Homo sapiens: one gene and its partners. The protein of the gene in region 2 purifies or fractionates together with the protein of the main gene of each other region. This does not show direct contact. Each region holds a gene or a part of one and is shown on either strand. Other genes may lie near its edges. The genes, in order: GNL3, DNAJC2, DNMT1, SRP54, ZC3H15, PPP6R1 and RPL21.

Region 1 (2,983 bases), on a different chromosome or scaffold from region 2:
AAGCTTTTGGTGAAAGCAGAGATTTAAGCCAGTGCTAGAACTGATTGGAGTGGGACAGCTGCCCACAATTTAGTTTGAAAGACAAGTTCAGCAGATAGATTGAGAGAGAGGAAAGCTCCCTCAGAGGAAGTGATGTTTGAACCTGGCCTTGAGAAATTAATAGAAATTTGCCAGATAGAAGTCTGCCACCACACCTGGCTAGTTTTTGTATTTTTAATAGAGATGGGGTTTCACTGTTGGCCAGGCTAGCCTCAAACTCCTGGCCTTAAGTCATCCACCCGCCTAGGCCTCACAAAGTGTTGGGATTACACTTGTGTTGGGTGGCATGAGCCACTGTGCCTGGCCAACTTTTAGATTTTTTTTTTTTGGGAGATGGAGTCTGTCTCCCAGGCTGGAGTACAGTGGTGCTATCTTGGCTCACTGCAACCTCAGCCTCCTGAGTAGCTGGGATCAAAGGCACCCGGCTAATTTTTGTATTTTTAGTAGAGACAGGGCTTTCATCATGTTGGCCAGGCTGGTCTCAAACTCCTGACCTCAGGTGATCCACCCACCTCGGCCTCCCAAAGTGCTGGGATTACAGGCGTGAGCCACCGCGCCCAGCCAGAAGGTGGCATATTTATAGCAAAGGAAATAGCATGTGTTTTGGTTGATGTAAATATATAAGCTATAACATGTAGTGTTCTCTTTAGAACAGTCGGGTATGCTGTTACAGTTTTAGATAAATGTGAAGCAAATGATGATAAACTGGATCTGACTGACTGTGCTGAGTCTGTTCAATCCAACCCTGAGCTTCATGTTCTGTCTCTTAACCTCCAAATAGACCAATGCCCCCATCAATTCCATCGCTCTTCTTTCAGGAGCATGCAAGTTGTCCCCTTGGACAAACAGATCACAATCATAGATAGTCCGAGCTTCATCGTATCTCCACTTAATTCCTCCTCTGCGCTTGCTCTGCGAAGTCCAGCAAGTATTGAAGTAGTAAAACCGATGGAGGCTGCCAGTGCCATCCTTTCCCAGGCTGATGCTCGACAGGTAAAAGGACCCCTTCTCATGAGCTCCTTGGAGCCATCTTCTTTCATCATAAGCATTTTGAGTAGAAAAATCTTGGAAGTGTTTTAAAGTACTGGCATGTCAGATGAAGGACAGCTCCTTTGTTTGGTTTTTTTTTTAAGGTAGTACTGAAATATACTGTCCCAGGCTACAGGAATTCTCTGGAATTTTTTACTGTGCTTGCTCAGAGAAGAGGTATGCACCAAAAAGGTGGAATCCCAAATGTTGAAGGTGCTGCCAAACTGCTGTGGTCTGAGTGGACAGGGTAAGCTTTCTTTTCTGTTGGCATTTTGGTGACCACTAGAATAAACCTTCTTTTGACACATCTTATTTTTAATATCAGTGCCTCATTAGCTTACTATTGCCATCCCCCTACATCTTGGACTCCTCCTCCATATTTTAATGAGAGTATTGTGGTAGACATGAAAAGCGGCTTCAATCTGGAAGAACTGGAAAAGAACAATGCACAGAGCATAAGAGGTGAGAATTGTGTGTCGCTGCTGTCTTCATCAGCTGACAGGCCAGTGGAGCTCTTACCTGTTTACATGGGCTTGCTTTCTTTCCCAGCCATCAAGGGCCCTCATTTGGCCAATAGCATCCTTTTCCAGTCTTCCGGTCTGACAAATGGAATAATAGAAGAAAAGGACATACATGAAGAATTGCCAAAACGGAAAGAAAGGAAGCAGGAGGAGAGGGAGGATGACAAAGACAGTGACCAGGAAACTGTTGATGAAGAAGTTGATGTAAGTGTGTCCTCCATGAGTTAAAACTGAAGTGAGTTTTCTAGCATTATAATACATAATGGAAGGAACTGAAGATAGGAAATATTTGAGGCTTGTGATCCATTAGCCTTAATTTTGCACATCCCGTTATATGTACCTCCAAAGAGTTAATTTTTCAGGTACATAACTACTTGGATTAAATGAGCAGACAAGGGCTACTAATCCAGCACTATTTTTCTTTGTCACACAGGAAAACAGCTCAGGCATGTTTGCTGCAGAAGAGACAGGGGAGGCACTGTCTGAGGAGACTACAGCAGGTGAGGCAGGCAAAAGGGGTTCTAACGAAGCAGCATGGTATAGAATCACTTTTACTTTTTGAAAATCTCTTTATTTTCCTGCAATATAGGTGAACAGTCTACAAGGTCTTTTATCTTGGATAAAATCATTGAAGAGGATGATGCTTATGACTTCAGTACAGATTATGTGTAACAGAACAATGGCTTTTTATGATTTTTTTTTTAACATTTTAAGCAGACTGCTAAACTGTTCTCTGTATAAGTTATGGTATGCATGAGCTGTGTAAATTTTGTGAATATGTATTATATTAAAACCAGGCAACTTGGAATCCCTAAATTCTGTAAAAAGACAATTCATCTCATTGTGAGTGGAAGTAGTTATCTGGAATAAAAAAAGAAGATACCTATTGAAAAATGTAAGTTTTATTTACAGATCAGGCCACAGGTTACAAAATTAAAACCAACAGCAGTTTTGAATTATCTGTACCAGCTAGCTGAACTAGCCATATCAGTTCTTCTTTCCAGTCATTCAGCATTGTAGTAAGAAAACACTTGGTAAGGCAGATGGAGACATATTTATAGTCTATAGTCTGTCTGGGAAGCTGACTGCCAGACAGGGCAGTTTGTCATCTTTACCTAGCTGACACATCTTTTTCCATGGCTTGCTACCGATAGGCATTGAAGCCTAGCAACTGTTACTTCCCACGCATGCTATCTTCCAGGACTTCCTGAGAAATGCTTGCTTACAGTTCAAATTCTGTTTCACTTTATGTTTGAGATCTCGGTATATCTTCGGATTAGGTTGAATTTGCCTGTTGGGTCTGGAATATACCATTTTTCCCAAACATCAGTATATGAAGCAGTCCTTCCCCATGGCTTCAAATGTCCATTCCAATGGAGTAACTTGGCAGCCTT
Region 2 (3,500 bases):
TAGCCTTGGACACTAATTGACAAGTCTGTGGGTCACTGAGTTATTCATCCACAAGGCCATTTCAAACCTCTCTTCAAACTCATATTCACCCTTTCTGCAGACAATCTCATTTATTCTCTACCAAAAGGTGAAGGCATAGCAAAATGGCCTCTTTTATTTTGAAGCTCTACCATTTACATTGTTCCTTCTAGACTACCTTCAAACATGCACAAGTAAAAAAAGAACCTTTATTTGCCCTTGTTGCTTCTGTCAGCTGCTATCTTAAGAGTCAGCTTTGGCTCATTTCTCCCCTTCAATCCCTTAGAACCAGTAAAGTCCCAATAATGCTAACCTTGAAAAATTTTTTTGATTCCCATCATCACATTCATAGTGCAGGTTCTTTTTCTTTCTTTCTTACTTTTGAGGCAGAGTCTCACTCTGTCGCCCAGGCTGGAGTGCAGTGGTGTGATTTCTGCTTACTGCAACCTCCGCCTCCTAGGTTGAAGTGATTCTCCTGCCTCAGCCTCCCAAGTAGCTGGGATTACAGATGCCTGCCACCATGCCCAGCTAATTTTTGTATTTTTAGCAGAGATGGGGTTTCATCATGTTGGCCAGGCTAGTCTCAAACTCCTGACCTCAGGGGATCTGTCTGCCTTGGCCTCCCAAAGTGCTCGGATTATAGGCATGAGCCACCACGCTCATAGTGCAGATTCTTAAATAAATAAGATTCTTGTAACTAGTTACATCTATCTGATGCACCTTATCCACAAACGTCAGATTAGTAGTACAATGTTGAACCTTCTGTTAATCAAAGATTTGCAGTAATGGAAACTAGTCAACAAGGTATTAAAAACCTGATCATTGGTTCTGCTTTTCCTAACTGATTTTGTTTCCCACTCCATTTCCCCATAACATTTTTTTTTTGTCTGTTTTTTTTGAGACAAAGTCTCGCTCTGTTGCCCAGGTTGGAGTGCACCGACATGATCATAGCTCACTGCAGCTGTGACCTCCCAGGCTCAGGTAATCCTCTAACCTCAGCCTCCTGAGAAGTTGGGACTACAGGTACACGACACCATGCCAGTTAATTTTTGTATTTTCGGTAGAGATTTTGTTTATGTTGCCCAGGCTGAACCATACTTTATACTTCTACTTCTATTTTATAGTTTGTGGTATTCTTCTGACCTTCATTTTAACTCTGTCCTTCCTTTCAGGCTGGTTCAAACTACACTGAGCCTTCCCTGGTCACTAAAACTTGTGGCCCTTCCTATCCTACACCTCATTTACTATGGGCTCTCCATCTTTTGGTCCTTAAGGTTCTTCTCAGGTTCTTCTCAGCATGTCCTTTGTGGTGCAACAGCATTAGGCATTTCTCCAAAAGAACCTAGGCATAGTGCTATATATAGTAGGTACTAATACTTGTTGAATTGAATTGAATTTCTGGGCCTGTTTTCTTATCTGTAAAATAAAAGGTATAGACTAGACAGAACAAAGATCTCTTTTGGTTCTAACTGTTATTACCCTATGAAAATACTCAAGGAATAATCAAAACAATTATTTTTTTCTAATATGATTTTGCAAAAGCTATGCTTGTGATAGATACCACAAATCAAACACTAAGTATGGTAAAAACCATAAACATCTAATCCAACTTAAATCAACAACAGCACCTTACTACATAAACAAAATGCAGACTGGGCATGGTGGCTCATGCCTATAATCCTTTGGGAGGCCAATGCGGACGGATCACTTGAGGTAAGGAGTTTGAGACCAGCCTGGCCAACACAGCGAAACCCTGTCTCTAGTAAAAATACAAAAATCAGCCGGGCATGGTGGCACACACCTGTAATCCCACCCGCACTCCAGCCTGGGTGACAGAGAGAGACTCCATCTCAAAAACAAAAACAAAAACAGGCTGGGCGTGGTGGTTCACACCTATAATCCCAGCACTTTGAGAAGCCTACATGGGCAGATCATGAGGTCAAGAATTCAAGACCAGCCTGACCAACATGGTGAAACCCTGTCTCTACCAAAAATACAAAAATTAGCCAGGTGTGGTGTTGTGCGCCTATAATCCCAGTTACTCAGGAGGCTGAGGCAGGAGAATCACTTGAACCCGGGAGGCGGAGGTTGTAGTGAGCCAAGATCGTGCCACTGCACTCCAGCCTGGGCAACAGAGCAAGACTCTGTCTCAAAACAAAAAACCAAAAAACCGAACACATAAAACAACAACAACAAAACAGTGGGAAACATAAAGAGAAATCAGATACTCCCTGCACTTGGTGACTTATATATTAGGTGAAGAAACAGGTCAAAGCAGAATTAAATGCTACATATAGGTAGGAGTGATGTGTTCCTCTATTACCTGTTTTTCCAAAGCAGCCTTTCCTACTTCTTTTGTGCATGATGTGAGTGTTTCATTCAAGCACTGTAAGCTAAAGAAAAAAAAAGAAGAAATGAAACTTTATCCTAAGCTCAAGTGAAGACTTCAATAGCAGTTCCATAGGTATACCTTGCCAGTTCAAGCCGATCACAAAGTTTTTCCACTTCTTCCATCATTTTAACCCGCTCTGCCTCATTATCAGAAAAATGATTCCAGGTCTAAAAGCACAAACACAAAAATAGTATCTACACTCAAAAATACATCCATCAACATAATTACAAAGCTGTAATCCCAGCTACTCGGGAGGCTGAGGCAGGAGAATCGCTTGAACCTGGAGGCGGAAATTGCAGCAAACTGAGATCACGCCACTGCACTCCAGCCTGGACAACAGAGCAAGACTCCATCTCAAAAAAACAGACAATGACAACTGAACAGGTATAATTTTATCTCAGTGTAAATGTTTTTAACTTTTTCTTTTCTTTGAGACGGAGTCTCACTGTCGCCCAGGCTGGAGTCCAGTGGCACGAAATCGGCTCACTGCAACCTCCACCTCCCGGGTTCAAGCTATTCTTCTGCCTCAGTCTCCTGAGTAGCTGGAATTACAGGCGCCTGCCACCACACCTGGCTAATTTTTTCTATATTTAGTAGAGACGGGGTTTCACCATTTTGGCCAGGCTGGTCTTGAACTCCTGACCTTGTGATCCACCCGCCTCAGCCTCCCAAAGTGCTGGTTACAGGTGTGAGCCACCGCGCCCGGCTGTTTTTAACTTTTTCTAAATTTCAGGTGTACATATTTCAGTTTTCAACCCTGATAGTTTTTTTCTAAACATAATCATCTTACCATTATCAAACCAAAAAACAAGTTAATATTCTAAAACTGTCCCAGCACTTTGGGAGGCCGAGGCAGGCGGATCGTGAGGTCAGGAGATCGAGACCATCCTGGCTAACACAGTGAAACCCCGTCTCTACTAAAAATCCAAAAAATTAGCCGGGCGTGGTCCCAGCTACTCGGGAGGCTGAGGCAGGAGCATGGCGTGAACCCAGGAGGCGGAGCTTGCAGTGAGCGGAGATTGCGCCACTGTACTCCAGCCTGGGCGACAGAGCAAGACTCTGTCACAAAATATATATATATACACATATA
Region 3 (3,108 bases), on a different chromosome or scaffold from region 2:
GCCATGGCCGTATGCTGTCACAGTGCCATTTCCCTCCCTGTCCCCGACGGTGACCCGGCCTGGGTGCTACTGCCCTCGCCCACCGCGCCTCTTTCCCCCAGGGCCGCGTGCTCCACCCAGAGCAGCACCGTGTGGTGAGCGTGCGGGAGTGTGCCCGCTCCCAGGGCTTCCCTGACACCTACCGGCTCTTCGGCAACATCCTGGACAAGCACCGGCAGGTCAGTGGGGCGGCGCCCGCTGGGTCTGGACAGGAAGGAGGCTTCTGTGCCTGTCACCAGGTGGGGCTGGGGCCAGCGCAGTCACTTCCGGGAGGACGCCTGCTGGCTGCCGGGTAGCCCCATCACTCTCAGTGGGAAGACGGCCCACAGGAGGGACAGTGCTGAGACATCCGAGTCAGGCTGCGTCCCTATGCTGGTTCCTTACTGTTTGTTTTTGAGGCAGAGATTGAGCCAGAAGGACAGTCCGTCGCGCTAAAGGAGCAGGCTAAAACCCATGGTGGCGACAGCTCACTCGCTGTAGGTTCAAATGAACTAGCACCTTAATTCCTACCTGCTTCTCAGGTGTCGGGTTGGCTTAACAAGTTAGTCTATGAGTTAGTCTCAGTTAAGTGTATTTTCATCATAGGGCACGCGCATTGCTTAAAAACCAGTGTCCACGGTTCTTGTGAAAACCACATTTCACCCCTCCCCCCGAATCTGGTTCTCGGGAAGCAGCCACTCTCTCTTTTTTTTTTTTTTTTTTGAGATGGAGCTTTGTTCTTTCGCCCAGGCTGGAGTGAAGTGGCGTGATCTCAGCTCACCGCAACTTCCACCCCCCTGGTTTTAAGTGATTCTCCTGCCTCAGCCTCTTGAGTAGCTGGGATTACAGTCATGTGCTACCACACCCGGCTAATTTTTGTATTTTTAGTAGAGATGGGGTTTCACCATGTTGGCCAGGCTGGTCCCGAACTCTTGACCTCAGGTGATCCGCCTGCCTCGGCCTCCCAAAGTGCTGGGATTACAGGCATGAGCCACTGCGCCGGCCAGGGAAGCAGCCACTCTTAACTGGGAGCGAAACGTGTCTAGGTGGCCCATTTGTCTTTTTTTTTTTTTTTTCTGAGACAGGGTCTCACTCTGTCCCCTAGGCTGGAGTGCAGTGACATGATCTCTGCCCACTGCAACCTCCACCTCCAGGGTTCAAGTGATTCTCCTGCCTCAGCCTCCTGAGGTGCTGGGATTACAGGCATGTGCCACCATGCCCAGCTAATTAGTTTTTGTACTTTTAGTAGAGACGGGGTTTCACCATGTTGGCGAGGCTGCTCTCGAACTCCTGGCCTCAACTAATCCACCTGCCTTGGCCTCCCAAAGTGCTGGGATTACAGGCGTGAGCCACTGCTCCCAGCCCCACGTGTCTTTGTCTCAAGTCTTTCTGAAGCTCTTCAAAGGCCCAGTGACTTGTGGCTGTGGGGCGGGATGATGGGCCAGTTGGAGGGTCCAAGGATCTTGTGCTGGAAGGGTTTTGGGCCCATGTGAGCAGGACCAGAACCCTTCCCCAAGGGGTGCAATGCCCAGGTTGTCCTCCATCTGAGCAGGGGCTGGCAGTACACCTGCCCCCGGGCCTTGGGCCTGGGTGTCCACATCAGGCATTGCCCTTCTCCCCTCCTGCAGGTGGGCAATGCCGTGCCACCGCCCCTGGCCAAAGCCATTGGCTTGGAGATCAAGCTTTGTATGTTGGCCAAAGCCCGAGAGAGTGCCTCAGGTATGGTGGGGTGGGCCAGGCTTCCTCTGGGGCCTGACTGCCCTCTGGGGGTACATGTGGGGGCAGTTGCTGGCCACCGTTTTGGGCTCTGGGACTCAGGCGGGTCACCTACCCACGTTCGTGGCCCCATCTTTCTCAAGGGGCTGCTGTGAGGATTGAGTGAGTTGCACGTGTCAAGTGCTTAGAGCAGGCGTGCTGCACACAGCAGGCCTTTGGTCAGGTTGGCTGCTGGGCTGGCCCTGGGGCCGTTTCCCTCACTCCTGCTCGGTGAATTTGGCTCAGCAGGCACCTGCCTCAGCTGCTCACTTGAGCCTCTGGGTCTAGAACCCTCTGGGGACCGTTTGAGGAGTGTTCAGTCTCCGTGAACGTTCCCTTAGCACTCTGCCACTTATTGGGTCAGCTGTTAACATCAGTACGTTAATGTTTCCTGATGGTCCATGTCTGTTACTCGCCTGTCAAGTGGCGTGACACCGGGCGTGTTCCCCAGAGTGACTTTTCCTTTTATTTCCCTTCAGCTAAAATAAAGGAGGAGGAAGCTGCTAAGGACTAGTTCTGCCCTCCCGTCACCCCTGTTTCTGGCACCAGGAATCCCCAACATGCACTGATGTTGTGTTTTTAACATGTCAATCTGTCCGTTCACATGTGTGGTACATGGTGTTTGTGGCCTTGGCTGACATGAAGCTGTTGTGTGAGGTTCGCTTATCAACTAATGATTTAGTGATCAAATTGTGCAGTACTTTGTGCATTCTGGATTTTAAAAGTTTTTTATTATGCATTATATCAAATCTACCACTGTATGAGTGGAAATTAAGACTTTATGTAGTTTTTATATGTTGTAATATTTCTTCAAATAAATCTCTCCTATAAACCACCCTGGGTGGGTATTCGTGATTTGCACGGGACTTCTGGCTGAGGTCAGACAGGAACAAGCTCTTCCATGCTGAAGGCGACCCACGTGGAGTTTGAAGCTAGCACGTTTGAAGCTAGACACTCCGTGTGTCTGTCTGTGTTTGTTCAGAACTGAGTCACGTGAGTTGATCCCCATGACATGCAAATGGAACTTGCTAGTGTAGCTTCCAGGAAAGCCTTTTAAAGGAAGTCTTGGCTGGCCTTCCCCGTGGCTGGTAGGCCTTCTTTGGTCTGAAGTGGGTTGTGATGCCTGGCAGTGGAGCAGCCATCCTGTGACCATGAGGCAGAGCTCTGTGCTGCAACTGGTGGAATAAGGAGAGAGAAGTCACCACTGAGCTGCCCTTGGAGCCCCGGCCACCCCATCCCCAAGCAAAACCTCTTTAGTTGGGTTTTTTTTCTTTCCAAAGAATTTTTTTTTTTTTTTGAGACAGTCTTGCTCTGTTGCTCAGGCTGTAGTGCAGT
Region 4 (4,009 bases), on a different chromosome or scaffold from region 2:
CATCTAAATTCTTAATCTGGAGTGCAAAACAAGACATTTATGTTTTGAAAACTTTCACTAGCTATATTGATGTGCAGCAAGGGTTCATAATCACTATATTAAGTATTTAATAACATGTCCCAAAGAAAACAACAGAATGAGAAATCTGTTCTATACCTTAGAAACATCTTTAGATACAGTGTAACAAATACATTGGAGGGAAAAAACTGAAGAGCCAGGACACTACATGCACTACCCATACTCCATAAGGCTAGTTGAGACAAGATGTGGCCTTGAACTAGAGAAAAAGAAACTAGGGTTAAGGGCTAATTCATGAAGCAGAATCTAATGACCAAATGGTTATGGCAAGTGAAGGAAAAAAGAGGCAAAAATGATTCCAATATCTCTAGTTTTTATAACCAGATGGCTAGTGATGCCATTAACCAATGAATGGAAGGCAAAAAGGGAAGGTGGTTTGAAAGTCAGAGGAGTTAATAGAGAAGAGGTCAAAGGGACTTAATGTATTATTTTTAATGTTTCACTTTTTATGAAGGATGTGTACATAGATGTTCATTTCATTATCCCTCCAACTAGCTGGGACTACAGGCGGCGCCACTAAGCCTGGCTAATTTTTGTCTCTTTTGTTGAGACAGGGAGTTTCGCCATGTTACCCAAGCTGGTCTCGAACTCTTGAGCTAAAGCAATCTGCCAGCCTCAGCCTCCCAAAGTATTGGGATTACAGGCGTGAGCCATTGCTCACAGCCCTTATAATCCTTTTAAAAATTTAACCTACTTGTATCACAAAATTCAACCAGAGGTCAAAACTCAAAAACGCACTGACAATCACTGCTTTTATACACTTTCGTATGCATGACATATGTCATAGTGAAAAAAAAAAAAAAAAGGAAGGTGAAGACAGTGCATTTGGTTTTGGACCTAATGAGTTTGCAAGTTTTAGGGGAAAGTACAGAACTATCAACTCATGAGATGGAGGCTAAAGAATAAGGTTTAGGCAGGGCATGGTGGCTCACACCTGTAATCCCAGCACTTTGGGAGGCCGAAGCAGGCGGATCACTTCAGGTCAGGAGTTCAAGACCAACCTGGCCAACATGGTGGAACCCCATCTCTACTAAAAACACAAAAATTAGCTGGGCGTGGTGGCAGGCACCTGTAATCCCAGCTACTCGGAAGGCTGAGGCAGGAGAATTGCTTGAACCTGGGAGGCGGAGGTTGCAGTGAGCCGAGATGGTGCCTCGGTACTCCAGTCTGGGCGACAGAGCAAATAAGGTTTGGAAAAGAACAAGGTTTGGAAATGAAAAGAATAAGGTTTGGACATGGTTGGCATATAGGGACAATGCCATGGAAGCAAGCGAGAAGCCTCGAGGAGAGCCTGTGGAAGACCATTTGGGTTATAGCAATGACTGAGGGCCAACTAAAAGGACGGCGTTAACCAAGACTGAAAATAACCAAAGAGATAGGAGCTTTTACTAATTCCCTTTCCCTTTCTCCATGGCACATAGGAGAAAATCAATTTTTAAAAAGCTACATTTATGGTTATCTTACTGTAATCCTGTGGCAGGTCCAGAATTTCCAAATAGATGGGGACAGAGGAGTAATCTGGAAGGAAGACTTGAAGATGCTTTTGCATAGTACTCTATATTAAGGTAGAAAATACCAGTTGGCCATATCAAAAAACTGAGAAAAAGCGATTTGAGGGAAATATTTCCCTCCCCTTTGGCACCACGATTGCTGTATTCTAGGCACTAAACCAAACCAAACCTCTTACCTAATCTCCTTTCTTCCTCAAAACAAGCCTATTAAGTAGATGAGGAAATTGAGGCTAGATTGGAATAGAAACTGGCTCAGGGTCACAAAGCACCTAAGGAGCACTTTAGCTCTCCCACAGCTTTCTACAGCTCTTTATATGCAACTAGTGTTTCTCATTACCCATCTTGATATAATGTGTATTTATGTGCGTTAGCTTCTCAATGGCAGAGTTAGTGTTATTCATTTCTGTATCCTTGTAGCCAAGAACAAGTATATATTTTGTTAAATTAAGCATGTGAAAGAATCAGGTGAGGATAGCATGAAGAAAGGCAGCAGGGGAAAGTTTCAAGAAATGGATGGTCAGCAGCGTCAAATGGTACAGAGAGAGCTATCAGTCTATCTTAAATCATCATTGGCATTCAACTGATATTCCATATTCGTTTATTGAACGTCTACTACACGCAGGACATTGTGTTAAGCACTACAAACACATAGGAAAAATAAAAGTCTCGTACAAGTAAAAGGATTTTCGGGGAAGTAGCTTCATCTAAATTCTTGCTCAGGAAAGCAAAACGAAGACTCAGGCCTGCAACTGCCTACATCTTATTTGGCTCAGGTAAATCGGAAGACAACTCAAAAGGGGCACAGCGCATCTTTAATAAAACTTCTCATGGAAGACGAGATAAAGAGCCACAGAAACTCAGTCTCGGTAACGATGGCCGGTGGCCACGGAGGCCGACTTCCCCCGGAGTCTCTCGCCTCCTGAGCAGCGCTGGGGCTGCCCCTCGCTCCCCCTCCGTAGTCTGGGGCGGGAAAAAGCAGACACTTACCGCAAAAGACACCGCTAAAGCCGTGGCCCTGAGGGGCCGGGAATTCCTTAGCGAGGCCCCACGCCGTCGGAAGAAACCCAAGAAAGCTGGGAGCAGACAGACAGGTATGACCCCACAACCCAACTTCCCGAACTAGATAAAGTAGGGTCCCAACGCCCAGCACCACGTCGTCAACTCCCACCAGCTGGAAGACCAACGGAGTGCCAGCGAACCTTCCGCCCAATGAGGAAACGTCACCACTCCGCGTAGTCCAGCCTTTCTATAGGAGAATCTACTTCCGCTTCCGGGGCACACCGCCGCGTTCCTTCTACGCGGCTCCTGAAACAGTTTAGATGTTTACTTGCTTACACTGGTTTTTGGTTTCAGTTTCCTACCGCTGAATAACTGCAGGAGTAAAGTTAGTGGTAAAATAGGAGGCTGTCTAGGGACGTGATTTCGGGGAAGAAGTCAGGCCTCGACGAGCCACCTTAAGAAAAGTGACTAGGCGGAGCACTCCCAGCTAAGAGCGGAAAGATGAGAGATAGAGGTGTGACTGAAGGCAGGGATCCCCAGGCGCACGTGAGACCTCCGTAGAGGGGCGGGGCTTAGGGCTTTGCAGACCGGAGGCTTGTTCCGCGGAGGGTGGGGCGGTCTCTGCTTGCGCATGCGCAATGCCAGCCAGTGCCTGCGCGGCTTGCTCCAGCAAGGTAAAATTTCCCACTGCGAGGCAGGCAGTGATGCTGCGGCCGCTTCGCACTGTGGCTCCTGCCGACCGCCAGGCGCTGTTACAGTGGATGCGAACTAACCGTAAGTGTAAGTGACCAGAGCTAGAGGCAGGTGGTGGGGGCAAGGATATGCTGCAGGCGCTGACTTTGAGGACTTAAGCGGGGTGAAGCCAACAGCCTTCCTTGGGATCGTTGTGCTGGTCTCTGCTGTCTTGGGGGGTAGATTGACCAGGGCTTTGAGTGCTCTAACGGAAAAGAGAGTTAGTTGCTCGCCACACGTAGACACCAATTAACAAGAGCGAGCCCTAGTATACAAGAAGAGGGATTTTATTTCTGAAGCCAGCCCGCTTCGTCTTTGGAGCAAAAAAGCGGGCATTTTATAAGGTACAAGAGGAAATGAGCAAGAGGTCTCTGCTAGCTGGTGCCTTATCTACCGGGTAGTTGAGTTGGTGCATTTCTGAGCAGAAATAAGTTGTAAAAGTGGCCAAGTGGGCATGCTTTCTGCTTACCCTTCTGAGGCGACCGCCTGGCGGTGGGAGTTGCGTCTTGGATCTCGTAGATGAATTTGCTCTGTAGAGAATGGTCTGGTGAGGGGAGTTGAGAGGTTATTTTGCAGTTCAAAAAGGGCTAAGTGGAAAGTGTAGTGGGGAGGGGAAAAGAGGGGAAAAAATAAACTATCTCTTGGAAAATGGGGGTAATCGGATACAGTACCACTTGGAATTAATTGGG
Region 5 (4,237 bases), on a different chromosome or scaffold from region 2:
GAGTAAAGAGGGGGCTGGCTGCATCCCTCCATCCTCTGACAAGAACTATGACAATTACAAAAAATAAAGATGAAAATATGTAAAAGGGGGGGAGCCCATTAACCTGCCAATATGAGCCCAAATGAAAAAAAGTGTGTCAACATACACCTGCCATTCTCGACACAATTCTTTTTAGTAGCTATCACATTTCTTCTACACACACACATACACACACAAAACATACTTGGGGTTCCTTGACATTATCTTACGTAGAAAATTACTAAGCAAATAATCAATTTGACTAAGTAGGGGGGCTTATCGTTTTCTCCCTATTCAAATTAATGAAAAAGATAAAAAAACTTTTATCTATAAAGATGATTCTTGGTTCCACAATGCTTCTTAACAGAAATAGTTTAAACAATAATCATTTTAAAAAATAACAGCTAAGCATTGTACATTTTTAAAAAATAGTATTTTCGTTTGTACAAATATCAATGGGTCCCATTCATCATTCAAGTACCTTTTCAAACAGGATCTAAGTTTGTAATGTTAGGTAATAGGCATATAGGCTGAAGCCGGACTGCCAAGATTACAATTGCTGGCTCTGTCCTTAATATAACTTTGGGCATCTTTCTTCCTTTCTCTGCTTCATCTATAAAACGAAAACAGTAACAACTCCCACCTAAGTGTCGTTGTGATAACTAAATGAAATAGTGTGTGTAATGTGCCAAGGAATTTCTGGAGCTACCAAGCACTTAAACTAAGTTCTAACTAAGTTTGGTTACTTTCACGTTATAAAGGAATTTTTAGGAATCACCTAGGCACTCTCCTAAAGTCTCAAAATAACTTAATACAGTACTTCTAAGGAGTTCAAGTGCCTCCTTATCTGGGACGCCATCTCAGATGCTCTTCAAATGAAAGGGACCCTGCAAATGAAAGTTAACTTTTTCCATTTTTTAAATAATCCTTCGCAGGAATCTGAAGCACGCGACACTCACGGGCCATTCAGCTCCGCCTCTCCAGGGAACAAGAAGGTTAACTGAGTAACGTGGTCACGGAGCAACCCCGAGTCGCTGCGGCTGCTTAGTAGTCACTCAGGATGGGGATGGTACAGGGGACCATTAACTGGCCCGGCAGGAAAAGTTTCCCGGTGAGGTGACGATGGACAAGAGTCGCCCCATCGTAAGCGAAAGTGGACTGAGAGGAAGCACAAACGCATGGACTCAACCAGCTCGCCCAGATTCACCCTCAGGCCTTTTGCCATCTGAAAAGGGCCTATCGGATGCGCGACATCACGAGTGACGCGTAGTCATTTTCCCACGTCCCGTCCCTGCCCCCTCCTAGTGGGACGCAGTGGGCGCGCACGCGCAGCTCCGCTTCCGGGAGCCGCTCCTCGCTACCCACTATGCTCTGCGACATCGACCTGTCGCAAAGGCCGCGTTTGCGGGGCCAATGAGCGACTCGCTTTCCGTGCGGTGCGGCGAGTGAGGCCCCGGTCTTCCTCCTCGTCCTGCCGCAGGGCCAGAACCCCTGACGGTATTCAGCTGCGCGTAAGTCTGGCCGGTGCCATCTGTCTCCGCAATGCCCCCCAAGAAACAGGCTCAGGCCGGGGGCAGCAAAAAGGCGGAGCAAAAAAAGAAGGAGAAGATTATCGAAGTGAGTACCCACCCCTCCCCCACTCACGCCGCGAGCCCTCCGGAAAGCCACTTCCCCGCTCCGGGCTTCCCTGGGAGCCGGCTCGCTTCCTCGGGCCACGTGTTCCTCCCTTAGGCCTGTGTGGCCCACTGCCCCTTCTCCAGCCCCTGATGACGCTAGCTCTCTCATTACTATAGTGACGCTGCTGGCGCCCCCGCACCTGGGCTTTGCCTCTCCGCCCACACGCCCGTGTTCACCCACCCATGCACCCGGGTGCGAAATGACCCCTCGGGACTGGCACAGGGTTTTATCCTTCGCTAGTCCTCTCAGAATTGAGGAGATTTTCCAAGGTTATGTGTGAAGAAATACGCTGAACGGTCTCGGGCCAGCGTCTTTCTGGAAGACCGACTCATGACGAGTCTTTGTGTTCGTTATTTCTTTACCCGTCACCCAGGGATGGTACTGTTAGTTCTTTTGAACCAACAAATTACGACTTGGTGGCTTTTTCGATCCACCTCTGAAATGTTTAAAGTCCCATAAAGAATGGAAGGACTTTCCGTCACAACCCAGGGTCTTGAACGCAGAGCTTGGTACTTACATTCTGAAGTGGATTAAATAGGATAACGCCTTAAAAGAGATTAGGTTTCAGTGTCACTAATTGTGTGAAGTCCCGTAACCCAGTTTGAGATATATGTGTGTGTGTGCGCGTGTATATATGTATACATCTATGTGTGTGTATATGTGTATATATGTGTGTGTATATATATTCGTTTAACACATTGAGCCTGTAGCCCTTTAATGGCCAAGGAACGCTATTGACGTTCTTACATGTTGTGCACTTGTTTTCCAACAACTGAATTGAGTTTCCTTAAAAGATGAACCATATTTGACATTACGTAAACATACCATACAGACCCCAACGAGGTATTTCTTCCCTCGATTTCTGCTATTAATCCTCCTCATAATTAAATAGGACCTCTTGTACTTTGGATATAATTAGAAAAAGCCATGACCATTTTACCGCATAAGGTGTAAAGTCTGCTCATTGGATTTAAGAAAATGCTTAAGAATTTTGCTATACTTGGCCAGGTTCCAACTTTGGAGGAGAACTGGTATTCTTATTGCCAATTTGTACAGTTTAAAACTGTCATGAAGTACTATAGCCAGACACTTAAAAACAAAATATTACCTTCACATCTGTGTTTTCTATTACCTTATTTGAACAATCTGGATTCGTGGCACTTAGGTAAATTTCAGGGGTTGCTGATCGGATGGCATTCACTTTTATGAAAACCAAGGACATTTTAGGGATGTCGTTTTCCTCGAGATTGGACCCTGATACGAAGTAAAACTCCCATTGAAATTAAATGTTATGTAATAATTTAGACAATTTAAATTATACTTCATGCATTGTAGAGCTTTCTCTATATCTAATTGTTTTATTTTTAATTAGTAGGACTAGTATTCTTATTTTAAGGAATTATGTGTGAAAGTTGTTTATAGTATCCATCAACTTTTAAAATGATGCATATGTTATGATTCTAGTCATCTTGTGACGAAATTATTTTTTAGCTAAAGAGAAAGCAATTTTAGTTTCAATAATGAAGGTATCTCCAAAGAAAAATGCAAAATAAGACAACTGCACTTTTTAACTAAAAATATTAACAACAACAAAGTGGTGAAATTAAGCCCGATTTTGTGTTTTCTACATTTAATATATATTATTTTTTTAATTTATTTTTTGTTGAGGTATAACTTATGTAAAATAAAATGTACAGGTTCTAGATGTATAGTTCTATGTGTTTTGAGGAATTTATTCACCCAGGTAGCTGCCACCCTAATTAAGACTTGAAACATTTCTATCACCCCACTAAATTTGTTTTGTGCCTCTTTCTATTTAATTCTTTCCACACGTGCAGCCACTAATTTTTTTGACAGGATAGATTAGTTTTTACCACTCTAGGAACTCATATAAATTATACAGTAGGTAGCCTTTGTGTCCTTCTTCTTGCTTTCACACCATGCAGTGTTTTTGAGATCCATGCATGTTGTGTATATTTCTAGTATGTTCCTTATTGCTGAAAAGTATTCTCTTGTATGGGAACCATTACAATATGTCACCTTTTGTGTTTAGTGTCTCTCTCTACTTGGAGGAACCAAAAGACGTTATAATTGACGCTTGAAAAACAAACTTAGGATTCCAAAATGGGTTAGAGGCGGTGTTTGTTAAAATCTCGGCAGCCAGAATGGATTATTTTGTGGCTAATGGAGTCATCTGTAGGGACCTTAACCTTGGGGCATACGCTGAGTTGGCATGAGAGTGTCCAATCATCTGTATACATTAGAGCTACAGGATAGGCATCATTAGGGGATCTGGGTGGTGTGTCTATTTCTCTGGGAAGGACTGGTCTTGACTACACCCTCAGTTAATTGCAGTTGTTGAGCTTCTTGCTTTTGCTGAATATGCTTGCATTTTGCTTTCTTGTGTTTTGTGCTATCATTCTTTAACCTAACCTGCAGTACCGTTGGATGTATGTCTTTGAGGCCATTTCTTTCTGAAGACTGAGGTTTGGGTATGGGTTCTTAGTGAACAAGATGTTCAAATATTCCATTTGTTTCTCAG
Region 6 (3,500 bases), on a different chromosome or scaffold from region 2:
TCCTCATCAACCGCAAGACAGACCAGGTGCCCTGGCCCCCACCCTGGCGCCACCGTGGGTTGAGGGGTGGTGGCTGGGCCAGGCCCTGTGCATGACGCAGCCCGTGTGCCCCCAGCTCGTGTCCTTTCTTCGGAAGAAGGATGACTTCGTGGACCTGCTGCTGCAGCACATTGGCACCTCGGCCATCATGGACCTCCTGCTGCGCCTGCTCACCTGTGTGGAGCGGCCTCAGCTGAGGCAGGATGTTGTCAATGTGAGCAGGGCCGGCTCCTCTGGGGGTGGGGGGCTGGGCGTGGTGGACAGCGATGCATCCCTCGCCTTCTCACCCTCAGTGGCTCAACGAGGAGAAGATCGTCCAGCGGCTGATTGAGCAGATCCACCCGTCGAAGGATGAGAATGTGAGTGCTGCCGATGCCCCTGCGGATTCCCCTTAGAGTTCCTTCCCCATGCCCACTTCCCCACTTTTAAAAGAGGAATTGGGGCTGGACGCAGTGGCTCACGCCTGTAATTCCAGCACTTTGGGAGGGCGAGGTGGGAGGATTACTTGAGCCCATGAGTTTGAGACCAGCTTGGGCAACATAGTAACACCCCGTCTCTACGTAAAAACTTAGCTGAGTGTGGTGTTGCACACCTGTAGTCCCAGCTACTTGGGAAGCTCAGGTAGGAGGATTGCTTGAGCCGGGAGGTCAAGGCTATAGTGAGTCATGATCACACCACTGCACTCCAGCCTGGGTGACACAGTGAGACCCTGTCTCAAAAAAAAAAAAAGAAAGAAAAGAAATTGGTGAGAAAAGAGAGCATTGAGAACCAGGTGTATCCATGCCCTTTGAGAAAAGGAAAGAAACTTGACTCAAGTGATTCTCCCACTGTGGCCTCCGAAAGTGCTGGAAAGGTTTTTTTCATGACCCAGGAACTTGGCACATAATGCCTTGCAGGGAGGGGCCCTCCTCATCGCCTGTCCAAGCGCTGGCCCCACATCCGTCCCTGCCCACCCTGGCCTGTGCTATTGCTGGGCCTGGCAGCTTTTTCCCTGTCTCCTGCCTGATTGAACCCCTTGCTGTCCTTCTAAGTGTCCGTCCAGCAGCCTTGCTTTCAAGCGCCCTCACATCCTCCCCTTTAGCTCTGGGGGACCCCATGTCCATGTGTTTCTCCAGCTTGGGTCTCCATCTCTGTCCTGGTGCCCAGCACAGGGCCTAGTGTAGAGTGGGTGTTTGTCAAGAGCCTCAGATATCCGAGGCCACTGGGAGCAACATGTCCTTCCCAATGCCAACTTCTGCCTCAGAGGCGCACAGGCTTACAGAGCAGAGATGGCTCTGGGCTCACCCAGGCTGGGGCCTGTCCCTGTGAGGACCCTGAGGCATGGCCCAGGGCCACACTGCCAAGCCCTGGCAGCTGCCCGTTGGGTAGACTCAGCTCTGCTTATGCTTCTCTCTTTTCTCTCTTTTGTAGCAGCTTTACTGAGATGTAAATTGCACAGCATACCACTCACCCACCGAAGCTTACGATTCAGCGCTTTTAGGGTATTCAAAGCGTTTATCATCTTGTTGAATTTAGATTATTTTTTATCACTCCAAAAAACAAGTCCTGCCTGTAATCCCAGCGCTTTGGCAGGTGAGGCTGGAGGATTGCTTGAGCCCAGGAGTTTGAGACTAGCCTGGGCAACATAGCAAGACGTTGTCGCTACAAAAAATTGAAAAATTAGCTGGCATTGGTGGTGCACACCTGTAATCCTAGCTACTCAAGAGTCTGAGACGGGAGGATCTCTTGGGCCCAGGAGTTCAGGGCTGCAGTGAGCTGTGATGGCACCACTGCGCTCAAGCCTGGGGTGATGTAGAGGCCGTGTCTTTTTTTTGAGACAGTGTCTTGCTCTGTTGCCCAGGCTGGAGTGCAGTGGCGTGATCTTGCCTCACTGTAGCCTTGACCCCCCTGGGCTCAAGCAATCCTCCTGCCTCTGCCTCATGAACAGCTGGAACTAGAGATGCACACCACCATTCTTGGCTAATTTTTTTGTATTTGTAGAGATAGAGTTTTGCTATGTTGCCCCGACTGGTCTCAAACTCCTGGGCTCAAGTGATCCTGCCACCTTGGCCTTTCTTTTTTTTTTTTTTTTTTTGAGATGGAGTCTCGCTCTGTCTAGAGTGCAGTGGCACGATCTCGGCTCACTGCAGCCTCCACCTCCCAGGTTCAAGCGATTCTCCTGCCTCAGCCTCCCGAGTAGCTGGGACTACAGGCGCCTACCACTGCGCCTGGCTAATTTTTTTATTTTTAGTAGAGATGGGGTTTCACCATGTTGGCCAGGCTGGTCTCAAACTCCTGACCTCGTGATCCACCTGCCTCGGCCTCCCAAAGTGCTGGGATTACAGGCGTGAGCCACCGCGCCCGGCCCCACCTCGGCCTTTCAGACTGCTGGGATTATAGGCATGTGCCATCACACCCAGCCGAGACCCTTTCTCCAGAAAAAATAAAAAAGATGCCCTGTGTTCATTAGCAGCTCCTCCTGATCTTCCCCTTTCTCTTCTTAGCCCCCGGCAACCACCAGACTATTCTGTCTCTGTGGATTTGTCTTTGGACATTTCATATAATTGGAATCATGTACTACGTGATCTGTGTGTGGTTTCTTTCTCTAGCATGATGTTTTTGTGGCTCATTCATGTGGTTGCATGTATCAGTTTCACTCCTTTTCCTGGCTGATTAGCACTCTCCTGTGTGGATAGACCAGCTTGGGCATATTCACTCATCAGTCAGAGCCTTCTGGGTCATTGTGGGCGGTGCTGCCAGCCCTGTATGCGGTCATGAGGGCCTTGTGTGGATGCCTCCTGTCCTGGGGAGCCTTCCGGGCTTCCTGTTCTCTCCACCATCTTCCCTCCAGCAGTTGGTGCCTCTGTGCCCTCCTCCTTCGTAACACGTGTCCCTGTGTCTGGGTGACCATTTTTCCCTGGATGGTCAGCTCATGGGAGGGGCTCCCAGCACCAGGCTGCAGAGGGCCCGGTGGCCCGACCAGGATCCTCACCTGTCTCTCCCCGTTCCAGCAACATTCCAACGCATCCCAGTCCCTGTGTGACATCATCCGCCTGAGCCGGGAGCAGATGATCCAAGTCCAGGACAGCCCAGAGCCTGACCAACTGCTGGCCACCCTGGAGAAGTGGGTGTGCGGGCAAGGCTAAGGCTGGGGGGAGCTGACTTGGGGAAGCCCTGGGCCCCTGGCCCCTCACCCTGACCCCTGCCCCTGCCCCCGCAGGCAGGAGACGATTGAGCAGCTCTTAAGCAACATGTTCGAGGGGGAGCAGAGCCAGTCTGTCATCGTCAGTGGGATCCAGGTGCTGCTGACCCTGCTGGAGCCCAGGAGGCCGAGGTGAGGGATACGGGCCACAGACCATGCATGCTGCCCATCCCCAGGGGCTCTCCGGCCCCTCAGAGGCGGGTCTCGGTGTCCACCAAGAGAAATCCCCGCCCGTGGCACCTTGCTCTGTGGCTGCCTGTGCTCCCTGCACAGTGGACAG
Region 7 (4,079 bases), on a different chromosome or scaffold from region 2:
GGAGACATCATAACTAAATGTAATGTGGTATTCTGGATGGAATCCTGGAACAGAAAAAGGGTATTAGGTAAAACCGAAGGAAATCTGAATAAAATGTGAACCTTAGTTAATAACAGTGTAAAATATTGGTTCATTAATTGCAACAAATGTACCATATTAGCATGAGATGTTAATAATAGGGGAAACTGGATGCTGGGTATATGGCATTATCTCAATTTAAATAAACTACATTAAGAAAATAATATCTATTTTTAAAGGTGTAGTGAATAAAACAATGGCCACCCATATATTTAACACCCGGTTTAATAATGGTCAATACAGTTAAAGCCTCCCTTTATTGTCCCCTCCTTACCAGATATGACTGCTTTTCTCAACTTGATTTTCATTCTCTTGTATTTCTTGACTTCTTTAACTACATATGTATGCATAACTAAGCAATATATAGCATTGTTTTACAAGTTTTAGAGTTGAATGTATATGAATTGTCATACTATTTATTTTTCTACATCTTTCTCTTTTTGCCTCATCACATTTCTGAGTTCAGTCTTCTTTTATTGGCGTATAATACTACATCCTAACATCCCATAAGGTATTTATTCTGTTATTGATGGACGTTTCTAATTTTTTGCTTCTACCCACAGCGCTGTTACGTACATCCTTGTTCACTTACCAAAGTTTCTACAAGACATATAGGTAGGAGCAGAGTGCTGGGGTTTAGTAATTGAAAACTTTTACTAGATTTTGCCACATTGCTTTCCCAAAGAGGTTTTAACATTTGCGCACCTACTAGCAGGTGCGTATGTTTAGACGTGTGGAGGAGAAACTATTTAAAGACATACAAACTAGATAATATACTTGCTTCATTCTCGTTTGACCTTCGTACCCAAGCAATTATTTCTGCAAACAAACAAATAAACAACTACTAATAGCACTTCCCGCACCGCCAGCCGCAGTTTTCCCTGCGGAGACGCGGATACAAGGCAGCTTCCGGCGAAGGCGGTGACGCAAAGGATGGCGTAAGCACGCTCGGGACGACGGCGTCCTCTTGATCGCCCTTGAAGGCCCCTTTCCGGGCTGTCTGACACGATGCAAGTGTCAGCTTGTGTTGGCCGGTTGCCTTTCTTTCGCAAGAGGGGAAAATATCCTCACAGACTTTCTGTGTTCTCAGAGACGATCTTCTTCCCTAGAAAGAAGTCGCTTACGGTTGGCGTTTCCCTCAGGCAGCGCCGTGGGCAGCCCACAGGCCCTTGTAAGGCGCGCGCCGCGGCCCCGCCTCTTTCCTTTCGGCCGGAACCGCCATCTTCCAGGTAGGGCCTACGCGTGGCTCCCGGGCGCTAGGTGTTCGACAGACTTGAACCGCGACCTTGTGGCCTCAGAGGTCGTTCATTGGGACCGTGGGGAGACTCTCTAACCTGTTTGAGGTCCATTGGCATGGGCGGGTTAAACCATGTTCTGCCAGACGGGGAGCAGCGTGCGCCGGGTCGGGTCTGGGCCGTGGGCTGAGAACCGGACTGCGATGTTGCGGCCCTGCGGGGGGACATTTGCGAGAAAGACGAGACTGAGTCGCTTGGGGTGAGGCGACTCGAGTTAATCTTTAAAAGACTTCGTTTTATGTTCCCGTGGCTGCATCTCCGGTACTGTGGGTGGCCCCTCTCACATAGGCTGTGTGGGGGCCGCGTGGCCTGATGCCTTTCTAACTCCTTTCAGTGTGGCTTTTTTATTCCAAATCTTGCGATGATGTTGGGTGAGGACTTAAGGGGTAGTAGGAATGGGTTTAAAGTCAGGCGTCGGCTTTAATCTTCTGTGAAGCCTACAGGTGTGAAAACCCGGGCTCTCGGTCGGAGAGTGGGTCCCGGAGTCGTCCTGGGTGATGAACCCTCACTGCCCTTAGTTAATGCATAAGACGATTTCCGACTGTTTTTAAAATTTTGACCCCACATGGTGATCGGACGAAGGGAAAGTGTTTTGAGGTTGCAACACCAATATTTGCACCAAGAGGAGATACTGTTTTGCGAATTCTAGGGCAGCATGCTTTGAGTGAAGGGAAACATTTAGCCATAGTTCATCATTTTGTCTAGTTTGTGGACGTCAACAGAGTCGAGCAAACTGCAGGTTGCTCTTTATGGTGGATCCTAGTTGCCATGATTTTAATACTCTTACAAACTGTAAAGCATCGTTTTGAAAAGTGCCTTCAGTTTTAAGTGTATGGGGTCCATGCTTAAAATGGATTCCAAACTCAGAAAGATGGATCTAGTGGAGGATTATGGGCTCTGGAATCAGGAATGAGTTAACTGATTATGCCACTTGGTGATTCCACAAAGTGACTTGAATCTACACAGTATCACCCTTTGTGTACTAACTTAGCACAAGTTTTTGGAACTTTATACACATCTAAAGGCTTTGGGGATTGGAACAGAGTACCTGGCATTTAAAGGGTTCATCCATTGTAACAATGGTTTGACTTTGGTGAGTTAGGTGAAACATGTCTTCTTGCTATACAATTTTTATAAAAATGGTACTTTGGGAGCCATTCTTAAAGGATTGTTGGTAAACTTAGAAACCAAATTGTGTTAGAATATTGTCAACACGTCAAGCCTGACTGCTGTATTTTACCTTATGGTAGGAGTAATGGCCAGGAATGGCATTTCTGCCCTATAATGACTAAAGAGCTATCAAAACTATTGTTTTGGCCTTTTTGGGAAACAAAGGAAAGGTTAATTTCTAAATGCCTGTAGGTGAATTCTTAGATAATGATAAATTAGCTGCCGGTTACTACTGAGCACTTTACACGGGCCAAGCATTGCTGAGTTCTTTGTAGACATTACCTCAGCTACGAAAGTGTTCACCCCTATTTTACAAATGAAGATGAGAGATGAAATGTGGGTGTCCCAGCTAGTAAGTGGCAGAGCCTATGTCAAATTTAGGTCAATGATTATAAAGCCTGGGTTCCCCTCTCTTCTACCCTATATACGTTCGTAGTAAATAATCAGAAATGTGAAGTGGCTTGAGATTTCTGATAGTTAAATAGATGATGTTTGAGATACACCATCACGGAAAATTTGGTTGACAAGAAAGGTTTAATTCACATAAAAATGTAAGGCTGTTTTATTGTGTTCTCCACTAAATTATCTTCTAGTTAGTAATTACATGCCCTTGGCATTCTAAATTGGGTTCTACAGATAGAGTGTGGTAGAAGTCCTGTTGTGTTTTTATATTCTCATAGAGAAAGGGTACTAGTTTGGATTCTCGTATCAAGTTCTGCTCCTTAAGAGTTTTGATGTTATAGAACTTGGGCAGTTTTGCCAAAAGACCTTACTTGCTAAAATAATGATTTTTTAACCTTTCAACAGAACTAACTGCTTGGTGATCCAGCTTTCAGTTTGCAGTTCTCACTTCGCTACTGAAATGTGAACATTTGAAATTACAGGGGTTTGGGGCAAATGCCAGTTTTCAGTCGTATTTGACTGTTCTGCTTTCTGGTTTCAGTAATTCGCCAAAATGACGAACACAAAGGGAAAGAGGAGAGGCACCCGATATATGTTCTCTAGGCCTTTTAGAAAACATGGTAAGTAGGTTTACCTTCCTTGAGAGAAGCATGGCACACATTTGTGTTCTGTTGTGTTCAACATGTGTTGTAGTTCATAGAATGTGTATCAATAGAATTAAATAACTAGCGTCTACCCAGCTTATTTCGTGATAAGGTAAATAAATTACCAAAATTATATGGTGATTTTGTGACTAAGTATTGATGCAAGATTAAACTTTGGAGAGAGGTTGTGATTTAGTAGGCTGATTGTGCTGTCAGGAGAAATTGTCCATTGGGAAGATAATAAGCATGTAACCATCAAAAATGATATATGTGTTAAAAGCTAGTAAAATTGCATTTCTTTTACTCTAGATTTTTAGCCTTAATACTCACTATACCAAATTTATTTTTGTAGGAGTTGTTCCTTTGGCCACATATATGCGAATCTATAAGAAAGGTGATATTGTAGACATCAAGGTAAACATAAAATTGGGAAAATAACACTACAGAAGATAGAAAAGTTGGATTTAATCTAGTGTAGGAATTCAAATAC

What was found.
Region 1: the proteins of DNAJC2 (region 2) and GNL3 purify together in Homo sapiens (affinity purification with mass spectrometry; 2 studies listed by BioGRID and IntAct, with this or other methods). This does not show direct contact.
Region 3: the proteins of DNAJC2 (region 2) and DNMT1 fractionate together in Homo sapiens (co-fractionation; one large-scale study listed by BioGRID). This does not show direct contact.
Region 4: the proteins of DNAJC2 (region 2) and SRP54 purify together in Homo sapiens (affinity purification with mass spectrometry; one large-scale study listed by BioGRID and IntAct). This does not show direct contact.
Region 5: the proteins of DNAJC2 (region 2) and ZC3H15 purify together in Homo sapiens (affinity purification with mass spectrometry; 2 studies listed by BioGRID and IntAct, with this or other methods). This does not show direct contact.
Region 6: the proteins of DNAJC2 (region 2) and PPP6R1 purify together in Homo sapiens (affinity purification with mass spectrometry, with the first as the bait; one large-scale study listed by BioGRID). This does not show direct contact.
Region 7: the proteins of DNAJC2 (region 2) and RPL21 purify together in Homo sapiens (affinity purification with mass spectrometry; 2 studies listed by BioGRID and IntAct, with this or other methods). This does not show direct contact.

The regions. Positions count from the first base shown.
Region 1 is NC_000003.12:52,692,015-52,694,997, forward strand, and holds the end of GNL3 (guanine nucleotide-binding protein-like 3), read left to right. Parts: intron 1-721; exon of another isoform or gene 722-798; intron 799-857; coding exon 858-1,032; intron 1,033-1,172; coding exon 1,173-1,315; intron 1,316-1,393; coding exon 1,394-1,530; intron 1,531-1,617; coding exon 1,618-1,793; intron 1,794-2,022; coding exon 2,023-2,089; intron 2,090-2,178; coding exon 2,179-2,261; 3' UTR 2,262-2,483; downstream 2,484-2,983. Other genes in the region: GLT8D1 (glycosyltransferase 8 domain-containing protein 1), read right to left, coding at 2,831-2,983. UniProt on the Homo sapiens protein: May be required to maintain the proliferative capacity of stem cells. Stabilizes MDM2 by preventing its ubiquitination, and hence proteasomal degradation.
Region 2 is NC_000007.14:103,317,268-103,320,767, forward strand, and holds part of DNAJC2 (dnaJ homolog subfamily C member 2), read right to left. Parts: intron 2,578-3,500; coding exon 2,489-2,577; intron 2,412-2,488; coding exon 2,342-2,411; intron 1-2,341. UniProt on the Homo sapiens protein: Acts both as a chaperone in the cytosol and as a chromatin regulator in the nucleus.
Region 3 is NC_000019.10:10,132,846-10,135,953, reverse strand, and holds the end of DNMT1 (DNA (cytosine-5)-methyltransferase 1), read left to right. Parts: intron 1-101; coding exon 102-218; intron 219-1,646; coding exon 1,647-1,737; intron 1,738-2,252; coding exon 2,253-2,287; 3' UTR 2,288-2,608; downstream 2,609-3,108. UniProt on the Homo sapiens protein: Methylates CpG residues. Preferentially methylates hemimethylated DNA. Associates with DNA replication sites in S phase maintaining the methylation pattern in the newly synthesized strand, that is essential for epigenetic inheritance.
Region 4 is NC_000014.9:34,981,783-34,985,791, reverse strand, and holds the start of SRP54 (signal recognition particle subunit SRP54), read right to left. Parts: upstream 2,801-4,009; 5' UTR 2,577-2,800; intron 1-2,576. UniProt on the Homo sapiens protein: Component of the signal recognition particle (SRP) complex, a ribonucleoprotein complex that mediates the cotranslational targeting of secretory and membrane proteins to the endoplasmic reticulum (ER).
Region 5 is NC_000002.12:186,484,823-186,489,059, forward strand, and holds the start of ZC3H15 (zinc finger CCCH domain-containing protein 15), read left to right. Parts: upstream 1-1,437; 5' UTR 1,438-1,560; coding exon 1,561-1,635; intron 1,636-4,237. UniProt on the Homo sapiens protein: Protects DRG1 from proteolytic degradation. Stimulates DRG1 GTPase activity likely by increasing the affinity for the potassium ions.
Region 6 is NC_000019.10:55,242,018-55,245,517, reverse strand, and holds part of PPP6R1 (serine/threonine-protein phosphatase 6 regulatory subunit 1), read left to right. Parts: coding exon 1-26; intron 27-115; coding exon 116-253; intron 254-267; exon of another isoform or gene 268-332; coding exon 333-398; intron 399-3,029; coding exon 3,030-3,142; intron 3,143-3,238; coding exon 3,239-3,352; intron 3,353-3,500. UniProt on the Homo sapiens protein: Regulatory subunit of protein phosphatase 6 (PP6). May function as a scaffolding PP6 subunit. Involved in the PP6-mediated dephosphorylation of NFKBIE opposing its degradation in response to TNF-alpha.
Region 7 is NC_000013.11:27,250,279-27,254,357, forward strand, and holds the start of RPL21 (large ribosomal subunit protein eL21), read left to right. Parts: upstream 1-1,279; 5' UTR 1,280-1,307; intron 1,308-3,486; 5' UTR 3,487-3,498; coding exon 3,499-3,565; intron 3,566-3,941; coding exon 3,942-4,003; intron 4,004-4,079.